Homo sapiens: one gene and its partners. The protein of the gene in region 1 interacts with the protein of each later gene in a pairwise test. Each region holds a gene or a part of one and is shown on either strand. Other genes may lie near its edges.

What was found.
Region 2: the proteins of TNNT1 (region 1) and TBPL1 interact in binary tests that used the Homo sapiens proteins (3 or more experiments, as listed by UniProt).
Region 3: the proteins of TNNT1 (region 1) and TNNI1 interact in binary tests that used the Homo sapiens proteins (3 or more experiments, as listed by UniProt).

The regions. Positions count from the first base shown.
Region 1 is NC_000019.10:55,139,206-55,146,237, forward strand, and holds part of TNNT1 (troponin T, slow skeletal muscle), read right to left. Parts: intron 6,361-7,032; coding exon 6,339-6,360; intron 2,716-6,338; coding exon 2,652-2,715; intron 2,098-2,651; coding exon 1,981-2,097; intron 1,756-1,980; coding exon 1,678-1,755; intron 1-1,677. UniProt on the Homo sapiens protein: Troponin T is the tropomyosin-binding subunit of troponin, the thin filament regulatory complex which confers calcium-sensitivity to striated muscle actomyosin ATPase activity.
Region 2 is NC_000006.12:133,977,192-133,984,223, reverse strand, and holds part of TBPL1 (TATA box-binding protein-like 1), read right to left. Parts: intron 4,143-7,032; coding exon of another isoform or gene 4,136-4,142; 5' UTR 4,099-4,135; coding exon 3,964-4,098; intron 1,657-3,963; coding exon 1,574-1,656; intron 1,408-1,573; coding exon 1,344-1,407; intron 1-1,343. Other genes in the region: umcharacterized LOC128092253, read right to left, coding at 4,136-4,142. UniProt on the Homo sapiens protein: Part of a specialized transcription system that mediates the transcription of most ribosomal proteins through the 5'-TCT-3' motif which is a core promoter element at these genes. Seems to also mediate the transcription of NF1. Does not bind the TATA box.
Region 3 is NC_000001.11:201,404,731-201,411,762, forward strand, and holds part of TNNI1 (troponin I, slow skeletal muscle), read right to left. Parts: intron 6,804-7,032; coding exon 6,627-6,803; intron 5,706-6,626; coding exon 5,598-5,705; 3' UTR 5,596-5,597; intron 4,521-5,595; 3' UTR 1-4,520. UniProt on the Homo sapiens protein: Troponin I is the inhibitory subunit of troponin, the thin filament regulatory complex which confers calcium-sensitivity to striated muscle actomyosin ATPase activity.

The DNA of each region.
Region 1 (7,032 bases):
GCCAGGCTGGTCTCAAACTCCTGGCCTCAGGTGATCCACTTGTCTCGGTCTCCCAAAGTGCTGGGATTACAGGCGTCAGCCATCGCGCCTAAACTTAGTTTCCTATCACTGCTGTAATTTGCAAATTTAGTGGCAGAAAAACAATGCAGATTTGTTATCTTACAGCTCTGCAGATCAGACATCTGAAATTGGTCCCCCTGGGCTGGAATCAAGTTGTGAACAGAACCAATTTATTCTGGAGGTTCTAGGGGAGAATTCATTCCCTTCCCTTTTCCAGCTGCTGCCTGCATGTCTGGGCCCATGGACCTTCTTTCATCTTCAGAGGCAGCCATGCAGCATCTTCAAATCTCTCAGTCTGACCCTCTGGCCTTCCTCTTATAAGGACCCTTGTGATGATCTTGCCCTTCCCCACAGGTAATCCAGGACAACCTTCCCATCTCAAGATCTTTAATTTAATCACATCTGCAAAATCCCCTTCACAGCTGGGTGACGGGCAGGTGGCTGTAATCCCAGCTACTCGGGAGGCTGAGGCAGGAGGATCACTTGAGCCCAGGAGTTTGGGAACAACGTGGGCAACATAGAAAGACCCTATCTCAAATAAAAAAAAATAATAATAATAGTAATAATGATGACAATGGCCAGGCATGGTGGCTCATGCCTGTAATCCTAGCACTTTGGGAGGCCAAGGGGGTGAATCACCTGAGGTCAGGAGTTCAAGACCAGCCTGAACCAACATGGAGAAACCCCATTTCTACTAAAAATACAAAAATTAGCCGAGCCTGGTGGCAGGTGCCTGTAATCCCAGCTACTCAGGAGGCTGAGGCAGGGGAATTGCTTGAACCAGGAGGCGGAGGTTGCAGTGAGCTGAGATCGCGTCACTGCACTCCAGCCTGGGTGACAGAGCGAGACTGTCTCAGAAAAAAAAAAAATTAAAATTAAAAAAAAAGGGAAAAGAAGAAAATGGAGAATCCAGGCCGGGCACGATGGCTCATGCCTGTCATCCCAGCACTTTGGGAGGTGAAAGCAGGTGGATTGCTTGAGCTTAGGAGTTGAAGACCAGCCTGGACAACATGGCAAAATGCTGTCTCTACAAAAAATAAAAAAATAAAAAAAACTAGTGGGGCAGAGTGGCGCAGCCTATATAGTTCCAGCGACTCTGGAGGCTGAGGTGGGAAAATCATTTGAGCCCAGGAGGTCCTAGTTATAGTGAGCTAGGATCACACCACTGCACTTCAGCCTGGGTGACAGAGCAAGACCCTATTTCCAAATAAACGAATAAAAAATAATAATAGGCCGGATGCGGTGGCTCACACCTGTAATCCCAGCACTTTGGAAGGCTGAGGTGGGCGGATCATGTGGTCAGAAGATCAAGACCATCCTGGCCAACATGGTGACACCCCATCTCTACTAAAAATACAAAATTTAGCCGGGCGTGGTGGTGCGCACCTGTAGTCCCAGCTACTGGGGAGGCTGAGGCAGAAGATTCGCTTGAACCTGGAAGGCAGAGGTTACAGTGAGCTGAGATCGTGCCACTGCACTCCAGCCTGGGCGACAGAGCTAGACTCCGTTTCAAAGAATAATAATAATAGTAATAATAATAATAATAATAATAATAACAAAATGGGCATCCGGCTGAAGAAGTAACATTTGGGCTCTCAGGGCAGGGGAGGCACCCACCGCCAGCTTAGCCTGACGTTCGCGTTCCTTCTCAGTTCTGAAGCGCTGTTGCTCGGCTCTCTCTGACCGGCGCCGCTCCTGGGAAACGGAGAAGCATAAGGGGGTGCAGGGACGTACCCCCAGTCTTCCTTCCCCAGAGTAGGCTAATAAACAGATTGGAGTGTGGCCACCGACTTGGGTGAATTCGCGAAAGCCTAAGGCTCAGCTCTGTACTAGGAGGAAAACTATTATCTGCATCTCCCAAGATGCAAGGGATCCACATGGAGGGAGGAAGACCGGGGGGAACCCGGACTCTCGGCTCACAATGCGCTCCTTCAAGGCAACCAGCTCCTCTTCCTCCTTCTTCCGCTGCTCGAAATGTACATCGATGAGTGTCTGCAGCTCCAGCAGGTCTTTCTCCATGCGCTTGCGGTGGATGTCCTGCAGGACACACGGGCAGCCCGTCCTAGGAGACCCTGGAGGGGGCAGCAGCCTCCCAGCACCTCCCCCATGCAGGATGGTGAACTGAACCGTTTCCCAGGACGGTATCCAGCAGGTGGCAGCAATGCCTCGTGTTTGACACTAATCAGCTCTTCCAAGGACAGGCTTCCCAAAGACGGGAGTGGGGAGTGGGGACCGGCGCCTTTTTTTTTTTTTTTCCTCCCAGGCTGGAGTGAAATGGCGCGATCTCGGCTCACCGCCACCTCCGCCTCCCAGGTTCAAGCGATTTTCCTGCCTCAGCCTCCCGAGTAGCTGGGATTACAGACACCTGCCACCACGCCCGGCTAATTTTTGTATTTTTAGTAGAGACGGGGTTTCACCATATTAACCAGGCTGGTCTCGAACTCCTGACCTCAGGTGGGTCACCTCAGCCTCCCAAAGTGCTGGGATTACAGGCATGAGGCCCCGCGCCCGGCCGGCGCCTTTTCATGATTGACACAAAGGCCCCTTAAAGACTAGCAACTGCGCCTGCGGAGGGGTCTCTTGTCACTTACATCGAAGTCAACGCGCTCCCCTTCTGGGATCTTTGGCGGGATCAAAGGAGGCACCACGGGGCGGCTGAGTGGACAGAAACACAGAGACCATGAGTGGCCCGACCTCCCTGAGCCACCTCCCACCTCCGGGATGTGCCGTCCAGTGAGGTAGCCGCCAGCCCCGGGAGGCTCCTGAACGTGGAGGGTCCCAGCTGAGGCGGGCTGTCAGTGAAACACACAAAAGAAGGTAAAATACCTCACTACTCATGTTTTTTTGGTTGTTGTTGGTTTTGTTTTGTTTTTTTGACGGAGTCTTGCTCTGTCACCCAGGCTGGAGTGCGGTGGCGCCACCTCGGCTCACTGCAAGCTCCGCCTCCTGGGTTCACGCCATTCTCCTGCCTCAGCCTCCCGAGTAGCTGGGACTACAGGCGCCCACCACCAAGCCTGGCTAATTTTTCTGTATTTTTAGTAGAGACGGGGCTTCACTGTGTTAGCCAGGATGGTCTCGATCTCCTGACCTCGTGATCCGCCCGCCTCGGCCTCCCAAAGTGCTGGGATCACAGGTGTGAGCCACCGCGCCCGGCACTAATCATGTTTTATACTGATTACATGTTGAAATGATAAAACATTATATAACAGATTAAAAAAACTGTGCTATGAAAATTAATTTTTCCTATATTGTTGTACTTTAAAAAATATGCCTAGTAAGAATTTTTTTTTTTTTTTTGAGACAGAGCCTCACTCTGTCACCCAGGCTGGAATGCAGTGGCGCCATCTCTGCTCACCACAACAACCTCCACCTCCCAGATTCAAGCGATTCTCCTGCCTCAGCTTCCCGAGTAGTTGGGATTACAGGCGCCTGCCACCACGCCTGGGTAATTTTTGTATTTTTAGTAGAGACGGGGTTTCACCATGCCGGCCAAGCTGGTCTTGAACTCCCGACCTCAGGCGATCTGCCTGCCTCAGCCTCCCAAAGTGCTGGGATTACAGGCAGGAGCCCCTGCGCCCAGCCATTTTTAAATTTTTTGTAGAGATGGCGTTTCACAGCCTGGGCGCGGTGGCTCACGCCTGTAATCCTAGCACTTTGGGAGGCCAAGGTGGGCGAATCACTTGAGGTCAGGAGTTCAAAACCAGCTTGGGCATCATGGTGAAACCCCATCTCTACTAGAAATTAAAAAAAAAAATTAGCTGGGCATGGTGGTACGTGCCTGTAATCCCTGCTACTCAGGAGGCTGAGGCAGGAGAATCGCTTGAACCCCGGAGGCAGAGATTGCAGTGAGCCGAGATCGTGCCATCGCACTCCAGCCTGGGTGACAGAGGGAGACTCTATCTCAAAAAAAAAAAAAAAGAGATGGCGTTTCACTATGTTGTCCAGGGTGGTCTTGAACTTCTGAGCTCAAGTGATCCTCCCGCCTCAGCCTCCCAGAGTGCTGGGACTATAGGCGTGAGCCACTGCGCCCAGCCTTTAGTAAGAAATTGTAAGTGACGTGTGTGGCTTGCCATCTATTTCTATTGGGTGGTGCCGCTCTGAGGCTCAGCCCTCAGCCTGCTCTGATTTCCTGCCACTTCCTTGGAATTCTCTTTTCTGGGTTTCTGAGACAGTGAAGAGCGATTCCAAGATGAAGCAGACAGGACTTAGGGGATGCTGGGCAAGGGGAGGGAAGAGGTGAGGACAATCCCCAAGGGTCTCTGGGCCAGGGGGCCAAGTGTACAGCAGGGCCGTCATCTCCATCTTGGAAAAGTCGATAAGCTCCATCAGGGCGTCATGTGTGGGAATAAAATATGGCTTACCATATTGTACAGGAATGAATACCGGCTTGCCTCCCACCCCTCTGGCTGTTCCATCCCTATCTCCTGCCCCGACAGCCCCGTGAGCTGCCAGTGAGCTTTCCTTTTCCCTTTTCTCATCATCAATGCCATTCACTCCAATGACTTCAGGTATCATCAACTGCTGAGGACTCGCCAACTGTCTCTGGTCCAGACTCTCTCCTAAGCCCCAGACTCAAGCTAACAGGTATCTCCTGAACTTTTCCCACCTTCCCACACATGACGTCCTGATGGAGCTCACCAACTTCTCTGAGAAGGAGATGGCAGCCCCACTGTCCACTTTGTTCCCCAGCCCAGAGACCCTTCGGGGTTGTCCCCATTGCTTCCCTCCCCTTGCCCAACAATCCCCAAGTCCTGTCCCTTTGCCTTGGAATCCCTCTCAGTCCATTCCCCCACCCCACCCCACCCCCTTTTTTTTTTTTTGAGATGGAGTTTCACTCTTGTTGCCCAGGCTGCCGTGCAATGACACGATCTTGACTCACTGCAACCTCTGCCTCCCGGTTCAAGCGATTCTCCTGCCTCAGCCTCCCAAATAGCTAGGATTACAGGTGCCCACCACAATACCTGGCTAATTCTTTTGTATTTTTAGTAGAGACAGAGTTTCACCATGTTGACCGGGCTGGTCTCAAACTCCTGACCTTAGGTAATCCGCCCCCCTCAGCCTCCCAAAGTGCTGGAATTACAGGCATGAACCACTGCGCCCGGCCCCATTCCCTTATTTTTATTTATGTTTTAGAGACAGGGTCTTGCTCTGTTGCCCAGGCTGGAGTACAGTGGTGTAATCATAGCTCACTGCAGCCTCCAAATCCTGGGTTCGAACAATCCTCCTTCCTCAGCCTCCTGAGTAGCTGGAATCACAGGTGTGTGCCACTGTGCCCGGCTAATTTTTTAAAATTTTTTGTAGAGATGTGGGGGATCTCATTTTGTTACTTAGGCTGATCTTGAACTCCTATCCTCAAGTGATCCTCCCACCTGCCGCTGCGCAGGCAGAGGGCACAGTGTGTGCAAAGGCTCAGGGGTATGAAAGCACAGGCATGGCTAGAGAACCATGAAACGCTGTGTGTCTGTCAGTGGGGAAGGCAGATGCCGGAAAGGTCCGCTGGAGCCAGATGGGGAAGGCTTTGAATGCAGGCTAGTTGCTTTGACTGCGTCTTAAGAGTAGTGGGGAGTTGAGGAAAGATTCTGAGCAGAGGAGGGGCAGGGTTAGCTCTGGTGTTAGAAAAGTCTCTCTCGAGTCATGGAGGAGGATGAGCCACAAGTTGTAGGCAGGGAGGCCAGAGAGGAGGCTGGGGTGATGGTAAAGGCGCGAGGGGAAGAGGGACCACTGGGTGGAAAGAAGGAAACAGACTGGCTGGGCATGGTGGCTTGCGCCTGTAATCCCAGCACTTTGGGAGGCCAAGGTGGGAGAACTGCTTGAGGATAGGAGTTCAAGACCAGCCTAAGCAACATAGCAAGACCTCATCTCTACAAAAAGAAAAAAAAAAAAAAAAACCAGGTGTGGTGGCACATGCCTGTGGTCCCAGCTACTCAGGAGGCTGAGATGGGAGGATTGCTTGAGCCCAAGATGTTGAGGCAGTGGGCCAGGATTGGGTCACTGCACTCTAGCCTGGGTAACAGGGTGGAGACTATGACCACGATGAAGAAGAAGGGGAAGGAGAAGGAGAAGGGGAAGGGGAAGAAGAGGAAGTGGAGGAGGAGGAGGGAGGAGGAGGGAGAGGAGGGAGGAGGGAAAGGGGGAGGGAGGAGGAGGAGGAGGAGAAATGTCGACTGCTGTTTCAATTTCCTCCCTCCATCTCTGCCTTTCTCACACCTTGTCTCTGGGGGTAGAGGGAATATTTAGGAAGATGTATGACTGGGGCCCCCCACCCTGTAGGATCTCACCTTGGTTTGGGGCGTTCCTCTTCTGTTGGTGGTGGGGGATAAAAAGAGATAATTAGCAAGAGTTTAGAGGAGAGGGGCTAGGCCTGACACACCCTGGGGAGGGACCCCCCAAGCCTCGGCCCCCAGGACCCCAGGGAAGGACTCTGGAGTCCAGTTCTGGAGGAGGGGGGATGGGGAGAAGAAAAGAGGGAAGGAAAGTCAGGGTGGCTGTAAAGGAGGAAGAGGGTCACACGCATCAGATATACATTCAGAACTGGTGTGGGGACCCCCCACCCCCACTGTCTGCACACCCAGGAGTGCAAACCCCCAGACCTTTCTCTATTTATATGCCCAGAGCTCCTGCTCTCCTCCATTAGGACCCAGCAGTGCAGGGGGTCCCAACCTCTGTCTTCATTCAGTGACCCCAGCGCTCTCTCCCCAGCTCGCCCCCTGCCCACCGCCCCACCGCCCCCCCGCCCCCGGCCCGACCTTGGAGACCCTGACTCCCAGCGCTCGCCTCCTCTGCAATCCTAAATTCCAAGCCCCAACCTTTGAATGTATATGGGGGAGAAAATAACAGACAAGGTTGGAGGCGAAGATAAGGGGGGATGGGGTGGTGCTTCTCCGCAAACATCCAACCCTTCTGTAAAGATTCCTCCAGACTGGGGAAGAAGGCTTGGGTGTCGGTCCCTTTAAGAAGGAAGGGAAAGGGTTA
Region 2 (7,032 bases), on another chromosome or scaffold:
AGCTTTAATTCAGTTTTTTAAAAAGCTCAAAAACTCCATTAAAAAAATTAAAAACTGAGGTATTTGCATGATCAAAACAGTATGGGTCTTTCTAATCATATGTTTAATTTTTTAATACTTTAAGTGAAATATTTAAAACTACTGAGAAAGGAGAGAGAATAGTGAGGGAAAAAAAATTTAAGTCCAGGTCATCCTGCTAGAGTAAAAATGGAAAAGATGTCACTTTAAAGTCAGTAAATACAGAGTGTACACTGGGCTCCAAAAGTCAGATGTTTTTCTCATATGCAATAAGGCAAAATGACATTTCTGTGAGATTAGCTAGATGTTTATTTTCTTTCTGGGGATAGAGTGATAAATTTGTTTCTAACTAATTGGGATTTCTCTCAACACTTCTAATGTTACACTAAGAAAAGAAGTTCCAAGGCTGAAAATAATGCTGTTAACATTAATAACTTTGGCCACTCCAACCAACATCTTCGTTTCATCTCATTATCTTTTCAAACATTCCTCCTAAAACCACAATTTTGGGTGAGCGAACTATCCTTCAACTCAGCCTTGCACACAGCAGTTGCGCAAAGCCAGGAAACCGCAAAGTGGCAGCACTCTCAAATCACAGTACAACTCAAGCCTCTCTCTACTGCCACCCTTCTCAAGCACCAACCCCCACTCCCCACCAGCCGTTCAGTCTCTTCCTATCACCCTCTACTTCAGAGAGACTGAGTCATCAGAGGGAAAGGTAACTTCCTATCCCCACTTCTACAAACTTGTCTCAATCCCAAACAGCCTTGCCCTCATCTTCAGGGACCATTCTCATCTTTATCTTTCATTTATTCATCATTTGCAAGTGACCTAGCAAGTCCATAATATGTAATCGTTTTATTCAAAGGTATACCTCTATCAAGTTATAGTGATGAGGCTGACATGCCAGTGACAGTCACGTTACAAGTGTGAGAGCCTGCCAGCTGGTGTGTCCATGTCAACGGCCTCTGCCATTCTCTATTCACCATTCTGACCTGGCATTCTTGAGATGACCAAAAACCATTTTGTTTGTGTACGTCAGAGGTGAAAACACTTAAAAAAGAGTTGAAAAGGAAATTAACTTGTGAGGAAACAAGTCTCTTTATGGGAAAGGAATTAGGGAAAAAGCTAGGATCCTTTACAAATACCCACATAGCCAAATTTTGCTACTAATTTTCACACTGAAGGGCAGTATTAAAAAACCTAGAAAAAGTTTAATCATAAGAATAGTACGCATAGTGATTTCTTGAGTCTATTACAATTTTTAATTCTATAAAAATAAGTCCTTGAATATTTGTAGTTTAGATACTATTTGAAAACGTTACCTGAAAACCTAGTTTCTGCAGACTACGGGCTAAGCGTCTGGCACCAAATTTAGCTTCTTCTTCACTACGGTTTTAAGGAAAGAAAAAGATTATCAGTTACACAGGAAATAAATGTTATACTGAGGAACATAACAAACTTTACATATGATTTTGCTGTTAAGTCTAGGAAAATGTCCTTTCCATGAGGGAAAAAGTAAAAAATAAAAACAAAAAACCCAAGTAGCATTTACCTTGTTGCTCCAGTGCAAATAATTTTTCCTGAGGACCAAATTGTAGCTGTAATTCTAGGTTTTCTAAGCTTCATTAATACTTTCTGGGGGGAAAAAAAATCTGATTACCTCATAAGCATTATTTTTCACATAAGGTTCTGTTCTATATAGTCATATTAATGTCCAAATACTACTCTCCAAGCTTATCCAAGACTGCAATAACTGCTCTCCAAATCTACCATTCTGAAATCAAGTACAATACCAAACACAAAGAACATATTAATCCAAAAAGACATTTGATTAATTAAAAATACAAGGTGTATAGAAATCTCTCACTCTATATACTTGAAATCAATGTACTCCAAGTATATAAACAATTCAACTCTCATTCCACCCCAGTCATATAACTGGAACTTGCATGGTTCTTCACACACACCAAATCTGTTCATGCTTCAGAAGCTTTGCAGTAGCTGTTGCTTTCATTTGGAATATTATCCCCTCAATATTCTCACTTCATTCAGGTCTCTTACCAGATGTCACCTCCTGAAGAGAGGCCCTCCCTAATCATTTCCCTGAAACACCCATCCCTTCATTGCTTTCTAATTCCTAATTCTGCTTTCTGCTGCTTCATGGTACCCATCACTACTTTATATTGCATCCTAGAGTTGAGATGCTTATTACATACTCAAGTTCAACATCGGCATCTTGAATAAAGGAGAAATGTTGGAGCTGGAGATGTAATTGGAAATTCATTTAAAGCTATGGGTTACAATGAAATAACTACAGAGTGTGTATAAATAGGTCAAGGACTAAGCTCCAAGAAAATATGCAAATTTAAATTTTCATTCCAACTTTTCATTAATGGAAATATTTGTTAGATGCTCATTCTATGTAAGAAAGACATAAATGCTCACTGACTAACATAAATGAATCAGATGTTTCTGCTTAAAATTTTTGTTACATTTTGTGTTCTTCATTCTCTGTCATATGCCATATTATCAAACTAGAAAGCTATTAAATCTGGGCAGACTCAAAATTCACCAAAGATCAAGATAAAATTTGAACTAAAATACATTATAAAATTTCATATACAAGTGACTGAGAAACACTTGACTGAGTTTATCCTACATTTAATTGTCTCTCACCATCACCAGCTTGTCTATCAACTCAGAATTTTCAATTAACCTGCCTTAAAAAAACTACTTCCTTTCCATATGTCATGCTGAAGTACCAAAGCAGTGTTAGGCATATTCCTCTCTAAACTTTTGAGCAGACATATTTATTACTTTTCTAAAGGAAGGATGGGATTGCTGACAAACTTGAAAATCTTTGTGAGTCACTGAAATTTTTAATTGAATTTAATTCATCTTTACTTAGTTTCTAGTACTAAGAATTAATGACGGCCAGGCACGGTGGCTCACGCCTATAATCCCAGTACTTTGGAAGGCTGAGGTGGGTGGATCACAAGGTCAAGAGATTGAGACCATCCTGGCCAACACGGTGAAACCCCGTCTCTACTAAAAATACAAAAATTAGCTGAGCGTGGTGGTGTGCACCTGTAATCCTAGCTACTTGGGAGGCTGAGACAGGAGAATTGCTTGAACCTGGGAGGCAGAGGTTGCAGTGAGCTGTGATCATGCCACTGCATTGCACTCCAGCCTGGCGGAAGAGTGAGACTCCGTCTCAAAAAAAAAAAAAAAAAAAAAAAATTAATTAATTAATGGCAATTTACATAGGTATCCTGGCATCTAATTTTTAAAGCTAAATAGAGCCTTGAGATACATTCTTAATTTTCATAACAAATGTGTAAAATACATATTCCTCTCGTCAATCTTTGGTTTATAATGACATCCAATGTCTTTTATAATGTTAATCTCAAAACACTAAGGTTTTATTATTACTTATTAATATTCAGGCTTTAAAATATTACAGGTTTAACAAAAACTAAAATTTAAGATGTCCAGGTTAAGATATAAATCATATTATTTTCAGCAGTTTGTTATGAAAGAAAACCATCTACCTTTGTTAAAGAATATGACAATTAAAATATTATAAAAATTATAATATATATTAAGGCATCATTCAAATATAATTCAAATATAATCATATTTGAATAGGTACATGTGCGAATATAAAGGTCCCTTTCTTCAGTTAAAATAAATTGAGAGAGCAATAAAATGTCTCTGTAACCAATGAGTTCTTTGCTGATTCAGGTACCAGCACTCTATGTACAAAAGCTTGCACCTCCATGAGAGGAGGGATTGCTTTTACAGGGCTCACTTCTGTATCCAGGACAACCAGCACATGGTAAGGTGCTCATAAACTATCTGTAGAATGAATACATTTTAGTATTAGTCATAGAACTATAAAATTAGGCTATGTAGTACAAATACGAAAACTCAGATACTTACTCCAACATCACGTTTATAAATTACATTTGCTCCTTCCAAAGCAATCTTCCTTAAGTTTAAATGACATCTTGTTCTAAAAACACAGACTACATTTGTAATTAGAATGTCCAATGCAACATCACTGTCTGCATCCATTGGGGTGGTTTTAAAATTTAGCTTTCCACCACGAAGATCACATCCTGAGAAATAAAACAAAATAAAGTCATTAAACTTAAATGTTGTTAATTCACTTTTCACAATTTTGAAATTGAAATGTAAAAAATGAATCTATATTATTTATTTTTCAAATGTTACTAGAATCAAATCATGTCCCTGGCCGGGCACAGTGGCTCATGTCTGTAATCCCAGCACTTTGGGAGGCCAAGGTGGTTGGATCATCTGAGGTCAGGAGTTCAAAACCAGACTGGCCAACATAGTGAAACCTGGTCTCTACTAAAAATACAAAAATTAGCCGGGCATGATGGTGCATGTCTGTAATCCCAGCTACTAGGGAGGCTGAGGTGGGAGAATCACTTGAACCTGGGAGGCGGAGGTTGCAGTGAGCCGAGATCGTACCACTGCATTCCAGCCTGTGAGACAGAGTGAGACTCTGTCAAAACAAACAAACCAAATCATGTCCTTTCTTTTCCCCACTAAAAATGTCATTTTTAAAAAAGCTAACATGACATCTAATATATTTCAAAATCTAGGCCTAACTTTCATTCCTTAAACTAAAAAGTAACTTTTACTTGACAGGAGCTTGCCAGACTTATCTCCTGCTATTCACCTCTACAAACACTACGTTCCAGGTGTACCACAGTAATGACAAATCCCCAAATGCACCACGTTCAAGGGTTGGACTCTGGTTCCAATGTCTAACCATTAGTGGCATATAACCCTTCTCATGCAACTTGCTGGTACTATAAAAAATATGACATACTTCTATTTCAAGCAGAGTAACTGACTTAAGTTTAAAGCAGCAAAAATATGAATAACATTTACTAACAGACTTTTCTCATTACTAACCATTCATTCATTATTTTCTTTCTGAACACCTATACACTGAAGATAATGGAGGGAAAAAAATGATTAAGGCAAAGTCTTTTGTCCTCAAGGAGTTTGCAAACTTGGGTGTACAGGAGGAGCTCTACCAAGTAATTTGCATAATACCATTTTTATCAAGATCAGAATCTTCCAACATGTATTTGCCGAGACTCCTATGATTTATACAAACAAACAAGCCCCAGTTTTTACTAAGTACGTGACTCATGACCCAGCTAAAAAATTCTCTCTTTGCATTTTCACACTTCAAAAAATAAACAATGGCAATTTGACTTAACTCACAAAAAGATCAGAAAATGATAAAAACATACTATAGTTGTTTTTAAAATTCCTTGCAGCCACAATGTAAAAAACTAGTATTCTTTATAATAAGGATTCAAATTATTATATAACTAAAACAGTGAAGGGGCCAAGAGTCTAAATAAAGAAGGTCTTGTTTCTCTGCCTTTAAGTTTCTGATAGAACACAGTGGCAAACCAGACCAAGACTTCTGACACCTCTATAAGACCATATGGCATTCAATTCTGTGTATCAATTGTACCTCAACTTCATTATATTTTTTCACTCTTGTATTCCCATATTCCCCTCAATCTGTGTATCTTTTTGTTTTTCTGTTATTTGTGCATGTTTGAGCTACCTCAAATAATTTTTACGTATGAGGAGTGAGGCAGGGGTGACAATAGGAACTGATGGATAGATATATAAGCAGACAGATTAAAAAGCAGAGGCACAGGGCCAGTTTATTACCATTGGTCTTAAGCACGTGCAATGTCTGACTCACCACTTAATAGCTATCAGAACTTGGGCAAGTTATGTAACCTGTGTCTCAGTGTTCTCATATTGTAACATGGAATAGACCATGCCTACCACACAGCAGTGTTGTGAAAATTATATAATGTATGAAAAGTACTTAGCATATATATCTAGGATATTGTAACAGTAAATGACAGTAATTATTGATGAAATAAGTTCAAATCAACAGGCAGAGGATTTCTTAGCACTACTTCCCATGATTACATTAGAGCCCAGTTACTGAGCCATCTGGACAGCAGCAGGTTTTCTGCTAGGCTCCTGGCTGCTTACCCCAACATCCATTCCACCTTGCCTTCATAATGATCAGAGCTCAGATGTTTAGCTGGGTACAATGTGGCAGAAATAAAATACTATAGATGTCAGCCTCCCTGGCAACAACTGGTATAGCCAACTGGCCACCTGAATATGTTCTGGTCAATGAGACATAAAATAAAATGGTTATGTATCCTCTGGGAAGTCTACTTAGAGCAACCAACTAAGCCAGCAAGGGCTCCTTTGCCTTTCTGCCCTTTTTCATTCTTGCTGTCTAGAGGTTGGATATGAGAGCTAGAGCTCAAGTAGCCAATTTTGCACCACGAGACAATGAGGATGAGGATGGTAGAACAACAAGATAGAAGCAGCCTGGCCCCTGACGCTGTGAATCTCCTTATTATCCCTGTTCTTCTTAATTCTAGACCTCATGAGTATGAGAGAAAAATCAGTTTCCCTCATGTTGGATTTCTGTGATATACAGCCAAACCTAATCCTAACTGTTGCACATCCCTTGAGGATAAGCTACCACAAGGCAACTACTGAAGAAGAAACTTCATGCGAATCAACTATCAAATTTACTATTTTACTTGTTTTTATATCAAACAGGAGAAAACAAATTGACTCAGATTTACTACTTTGAGTTCTACTCTACTCTGAATTTACTACTTTGAGTTCTGCCTGAGGGGACAACACTAAGGACAATATAAGTAAAACTAAGTCAAGAAAAAAAGGGGTAAAGAAAATCTGTGTGAATGCAAAAAAGAAGCCTTGAAATTCAAAATTGGTGATTTTTCATCATTTCAGCAACTTAAATTTTAAAAATAAGGTCATGGGAATAGTTCATAAGTTACTAAGTATTCATATTTTTATAATATGAGTAACCTGAAAAGCAGGCTCAGAAAAGATTGCTTTAATAAGAAGTTTTCAATTAAAGATGCAATATAAAAAGTCAGTACTTTTTTA
Region 3 (7,032 bases), on another chromosome or scaffold:
GTCACAAAGAGCCAGTCAGGAGAAGAGCATCTGGGAGGCACTAGTACAGGGGACACACAGGTGTCTGTGACACTCAGGGCGGGCAGACAGGTCATCACCCTGCATTCTGCATGCCCACGCATACACACCATGCTCACCCCTTCTGATGAACAGGCACAAGCGTTCACACACACGCTCCTCCCCCAGGGGCTCCCAGGTTGGAACACCTCCCCTGACTGCCAGGCAAAGCCATACCTCTCTCCTGAACCCAGGGCAAAGGGCCAGGCTCACCCAGCCTGTGCCAACCAGTGAGAGAGGCCAATGGTTGGCACTGGAGCCAGTTGGGGTGCTGAGTTGAGGCCAGAGATGGGCAGCCTGTTCAGATCCCTGGGCGTTTGCCTCTGGCCAGGAGACCAAAGCCCTGTCCACATCCAATTTCCTCAGACTGGGAGTCTGGGGACCTACTTCCTAGCTCCAGTTAGGTTTGTGACCTTGAGCAAGTCACCCTCCCTCTCTGGTCCTTCGGACATTGACCGCAGTGCTCTGGGCCAGTGCTATGGGGTTTTCGAGGCTCACCCTGCTCAGCCTTCGTCTCAGGGGACCCACAAGCCAGCCTAGAAGTGTGTCTTGGAAGGAAGAGAAAACCCTTGCCCGTCACCTTTAATGAAAGACCCACAGGCAGACAAGCTTTGGGGATGTCTGAGGAAAGAGACCTGATGGGGGTCAGGAGCAGAAGCTGCCATTAGCACTGGTCCCAGCGAACTGTCCTGGGCTTCCGCAGCTTGGTCACCCACCTGGAACGAAGCTAACCCCCCCGCCCCCGGCTGCCCAGCCCAGAGACTTGTGGGGAGTATGACTCACTTCGCGGGGGGCCATTGTGGCTAATGTTTAACTCTGCCCCTCCTTCAGCAAGGCACTTTAGCCCCAGCAGCCCTTAGCGCTGGGCCCTGCCCTGATCATGCCTGCTGCTGAGTGGGCTCAGACACACAGCTGAGCTTGGCCTCCTTGCGCCGTGGGGACCGGGCACCCTGTGGGGAAAGGTGGGAGCAACAGCTGGTCTCCCAAGGGCTCTGGGACAGGCAAGAGTGTAGCAGGTGGCATCCTGCCCTGGTCATTCCTACCAAGCAGAGAGGAGCACCAGGCCCATCTCCACCAGCTGCAGAGAGAGGGGGTGCCCACCCAGCTATTGTGTGCTGATTAGTAATAGATATCCCCCAAGTAGCACCCTATCCCTCCACTCTCAGCCAGGGCCCCATGTTGGAGGAAGGCCTCACCTTAGCCCATCTGTATGTCACCTGCATCTCCTTTGAATGTTTCCCCTTTGGTGCGGGTGTGTGGGGACTCCCCAGGTGCATATGCAGGACCCTCGACCCCCAGCTGTGTCCTTCCAAGAAAGTTGGGCTCTGTTAAGGCCAGTCTGATCTCAGAAAAGGGCAACCCCAAGGCAGAGTGACCTGAGATCTAGTCTCCAGTCTGCAGCTAGCAAACCCTGTAACTTAGAGTGAGCTACTTGAACTCTCCAGGCCTCCATTTCCTCATCTGTAAATTTGAGCTAACAAATGTACCATTTTTGTGAGAATGCAATGATATAACTCAGATAAAGCATTTAACATCACATATTACTATTATTGAAATGCTGTTATTAAAATAGTCGATAAGAGTATGGATTCTAACAGACTTCTTGGGTTGAATCCTGGGACCACCACTTATTAGCTGTGTGATCATGAAAAGTCCCTAACCTCTCTGTGCCTCAGTTTTCCCCACTGTACCATGAGAATAGTAGCTGTACCTTTCTCCTAGGGTTGTTGTGAAAGTTAAATAAATTAAGGTGTACATGCTGGTGCCTGACGCATAAGTGTGCTACATGTGTGAGCTGTTACTCAGTGGCAGGCCCCAGCTCCCAGCTCTACTGGTGTTGTCTCCATGGTGAGAGAAGACTGGAGTAGAATCAGGGCTCTCCAGAGGCCAGGCCCCCAGCCCAGGCCCCATTCTTGGCTACAACAGCCCCTTCCATAGATCCCTCTCCCACCCCCAAGCTCTCCTTCCCCTTGTCCACAGGGCCTCTCAATCCTTGCGCTCCAGATATGTCTATGCCTATATTCGCCCTTGCTCCATCCTCACAGGAGATGAATTAGGTCTGTTGCTGCCTGGAAGCAGAAGGAGGAACCCGATGACCTCCAGGAACCCTCTGGTTGGCTCTTCTGCCCCTCCTAGAGGGCCACTGGCTTAGGTGTGTTGAGTGGGCCCCACCTCCTCCTCCCATGGGTCTTCTGCACCCACGTGTTTGCTTTGAGTCAGGCCCAGAGCAGGTCTCCTGCCTTTACATGACTGGGTGGATACCCCAATCTGCCAGGGCCCCAGGTTAATAGTTGACTGCAAAACTGGGATTTGACTCTGGAACTTGGGGCCAGGCTCTAGGGAAGAGCTGGAAAGAGGTGAAACAAGGAGATCGCTTTGGATCCAGGCCAACCGGAGGAGCCCTGTGAGGCGGGGAAGAGTGGGTTTCTGTGGCTGCCTGGGCATGAAGGCATGAAGCCTAACCCCATCCTCTGTGGCCTGGACCAGCCCTGTCAGGTTCTCCAACTTCGTGCATTGAGACTGGGTGTGTCCGTGCCTACGGGTTTCTGTGTGTGATTGGGGTTGTGCTTTTTGCACACATCTGCCTCTCTGCCCACTGACCTATTTATAGCAAGAACCCTGGGCAGAGTGCTGCTTCCCCTAAGGTAGCCCAAGTTGCTGGTTCCCACTGCCATGCTTTCTGAAAGGGGCTGGCAGCCCAGCAGCCCAGAGAGCCAGACCATGCCCTGGGGAGCAGCTGGCACTGCACTTTGTACCAATTTCTGGCACTTATGGAAGATAATACATGGGATTCGAAGGTAGAATGGGGACTCAGTAGGGTGGGTAGAAGGGTTGCTGCTCTGATAACTCAGCCCCTCCTAGGGCCAGTGCTAGGGTGGTCGAAAAGCCAAGGGACCCCAGGTCTGGGAACAGCCACTTCCCTTGCAGGCTTAGCTCAGAAGTCACCATCCCACTGCCCTGAAAAGTCAGAACTTGACCGGATGTGGTCGCTCACACCTGTAATCCCAGAACTTTGGGAGGCCGAGGTGGGCAGATTACGAGGTCAGGAGTTCGAGACCAGCCTGACCAACATGGTGAAACCCTGTCTCTACTAAAAATACAAAAATTAGCGGGGTGTGGTGGCACGCACCTGTAATCCCAGCTACTCAGGAGGTTGAAGCAGGAGAATCGCTTGAACCTGGGAGGCGGAGGTTGCAGTGAGTCGAGATCGCGTCACTGCACTCCAGCCTGGGTGACACAGCGAGACTCCATCTCAAAAAAAAAAAAAAAAGGAAAAAGAAAAGTCAGAACTTTGGTCTCTGCTTCACAGGAGCCACTCTAGTGAGTATGTTGGGGGAAGAGAGGCTGCCCCAGACCCCCCTTCCACCCCAGAAGGCCCTATGCTCTCACCAGGCTTTGGACCCAGGAGGTAGTGGGATGGAGAAAGGACCTGATCCAGAGGACAGATAAGTGGCCACCCCATCTCCGGGAAAGAATCAGTCCTGGGGGATAGGACCAGTGCAGGAGTGTGAAGGGGAAACAATTGGGAGGAGGGTGGGTGAACGTGGGGAGAGCAGAGGCCGGAGGGACAGGAGAGCCCAGGAGAGAAGGAAGGCGTCACCTGGTGGCCAGGCCTGGAACTGCAAGTATCTCTTCTGTGAGGCCTCCTGCCCTGTGCAGCAGGACTAGGTGAGGGATTGAAAGTGCCCTGACCTCTCAACCCAGCACACATCAGGGAGAGTTAATCCAGGTTTGCAGAGGAAGGAGAGTATGAAAGCCGGCAGGAGAAGCGGCTCTTAATGGAGAGGCCTCTTCTGATGGCCAGAGTCAGGGGCAGGACGGGGTCATTTCTCGGAGGTCAGGGCTCTGGTGAGCTGAGCATCCTGGGTGGTGAGTGTGTGCAGTGTGACGTCACAGGGACTGGGCAGAAGGGGCCCCAGGGGACCCTGGCAAGCAGCCACCAATTCCTTAGCCCTCCCTTCAGATCCCGAGCTCCGGACTGCAGACAGGGTGACTGGAGCCCAGCACAGCCCTCTCTTCCCAAGCCCCAAGTCTTCCCTTTCTTCTCAGGGCTCACAGTCAGAGCTGCAGAAATGACCAGGAAACTGGGTTTTTAATGAAGAAGGTGTGATGCCTGTGGACACTGTACACACATAGAAGGAGTGTGGCACAGGGCTGGAGGAAAGGTGTTCTCACCCCCTCCTCCTCCTCCACTTGTTACACCACGGGGTGGCTGAGAAGCCCCAGGTGCCTCATGGGTGGATAGAAGCCCACCCTGCCAGGGTGAGGTCTTCAGACACTCGCGTTTTTCCTGCCTCTTGGGTATCTGTTTAATCCCAGTTCCAGAGGAGGGCATGCAGGCTGGAGGGAAGAAGTGGGGGAGAGGTGGGAAGGGATGCTCCAGACACAGGCAGAGAGGTGAGTGAGCTGGGTTGGAGAAGAAGCATGAAGCAGGAGCTCAGAGCGCAGCACAGCAAGCTGGCCTGTAGGGACAAAGAGGCAAAGCCATCAGTTCCCGGGGACCTGTGTGCAGCGCATGAATCCCTGACTTACCTACAGCACATGCAGTCCCCAGGGCTTCTCAGCCCTAGCGCACCCCGGACTGGATCTTCATTCATAAGGGCTCCTACAAAACCTCAGCTTCTCGGCCCTCGGGCACAGTTGCTCCCCTTTTGGGACCCCTCACACCGCTCCTCCACACTGCGGCCCTCAGCTCTTACCTAGCCTTGCCATGCTACTCTGTGGCTGCTTAATTCCCACCTCCATGCTTCTGTTGCACCATCAGCCCTTCAACATGCCCTTCCCTTTATCAGCTAACACTCGCTCGTCGCATCCTCAGAGAGCTCCTCCTCTCCAGAAAGCCTGCTCTGACCAGTGCTGTCTGGTGGATGCCTGCCCTATTGCACATTCTCTCAGCACTTCCGTAGAGGGTTTTACGTGGCCTGATTTCCTTGCTTTGCCCAGTTTCTCCAGCTATTTCCTCAGATGGTGGGAAGTCTTAGCTTCTGTGAGTGGTAGCTCCTTGGGAACAGGTACTGTGAGTGCTGGGTACTTCGCAGGGAGCACAAATAAAGGACATCACCAGGAGGTATTTAAAAGTGCATAGATTCTCAGAAAGTCAGAGATGAAGGGATCCCAGGGACCCTCTAACCTAGTGGTTCTCAAACTCTCATGTGCATCAGAATCACCTAGAAGGCTGGCCTCACCCCAGAGTTTCCAATTTAGTGGATCTGGGGTGGGGGCTGATCATTTGCATCCCAGGTGATGTAGACGCTGCTGGTCCCAGGACCACACTTGGAGAACCACTGATTTGATACAGCCCCCAATTTCATAGATAATGGGAACAAAAAGGGCCGCCAAACAGAAATGACATGCCCAAGTATCATGGTGCTGGAGCCAGGACTGAGCCCAGGAGAGCCGACTCAAATCAGTCTCATCGGTGCCTTAGTCCGTGCATCCGTGCACCACACTAAGTACAACCCGCCTGCCCATTGTGGACTCCCTCATTATCCTCTAGACTCTGATGGACCCCAGAGAAGGGAGCTGGTCTCTAGGTACCTCTATTGTGAGGTCGGAGACTTGGCGGCATCAAACATCTTCTTCCGGCCTTCCATGCCAGACATGGCCTCCACGTTCTTCCTCCAGTCACCCACCTCCACAGGCCGCTCCTGTAGACAAGTGGCACACACATCAGGGACTTACCAGGCTGGACGGCCCCCCAGCTCAAGAGAAGCTGGGTGATAGGAAACCAGTCTCCTCGGATGATAAGAAATCCTGATGCCCCTCCCCAGCTGGTAAGGTCCTAGGACTCAGCCAGGCAGGTGGACACAGGCCAAGCCGAGGCCCCACAGGAAAAAGGAAGCTGTGTGGCTTGGGAGCACTGGGTGAAAGTGGCAGCTATGGGGCTAGTTCCCACCTCAGTGCACCTCAGCAAAACCTCCTCCAAGGCTCCATGCCACCCTCCTGGTCTGGCACTCAGCAGGCTCAAGGCCACCTCTTCCAAGAAGTCTTCCCCTGCAAATGCGGCTGCTTTTCCATTTCCTCAGTATATTGTCTGGCTTATCTCTTCTCCTCTGAAGCTTCTTGGGCCAGAGACTGTTCCTTCATCCCTGTTCCTTACAGAGCCTATCAATTTGGGGCACATATACTGTGAATTCAACCAACTTTGAATAATTTGTTGCTGGGTGGTTGAACTCAGTTCTCTAATGTCTATGCTCGTGTGTGGCTATAACCAAGATGAGCTGCTGTCTCCTTTCCCTGTGGTGACCAGGCAGTCATCTCCACCATTACCCTAAATCTCCACATTATCTTCACACTGGGAACAAGATTTTTACTTCATTTCTCCGTCTGGGGTCTAGCTTTCTTTATGTCCTAGTTTCTTCGTCAGACTGGGAACAGCCTGAAGGAAGGGAGCAAATCTTCTTTCTTTCTTCCCACACTGGTCTCCCAAAGCATTCTAGAATGTTCTGTCTGTCAAGCTGACTGGTCTCCAACAGGAGCTCCTGGGCCAGCCTGAGGCCATGTGAGGGGTTGACAAGGGGAAAGCTGGTAGGGCAGAGGGTGGAATGTTCTGAGGAAAGGGACCTCACCTTCTCTGTGTCTTCCTTCTTCACAGACTTGAGGTTGGCCCGCAGATCCATGGACACCTTGTGCTTGGAGCCCAGCAGGGCCCGGAGCATGGCGTCAGCCGAGACACGGACTCGACGCAGGGGCGGGCGCTTGAACTTCCCACGGAGGTCCATCACCTTCAGCTTCAGGTCCTTAATCTGTAGGTGAGAAGCGCCCGGGGCTCACTGGAGAGGCAGCTAGCCACAGGACACCCTTCCTGAGGACCTCAGACTGCTAGGGTTCCAGCCAGAGATACACCTTAAATTGTCCACCCTTGAAGCCAGACCTATCAGCAGTCACCAACCTTTTTGTCACCAGGGACCGGTTTTGTGGAAGACACTTTTTCCACGGAGAGGTGGTGGGGTGGTTTCAGGATGAAACTGTTCC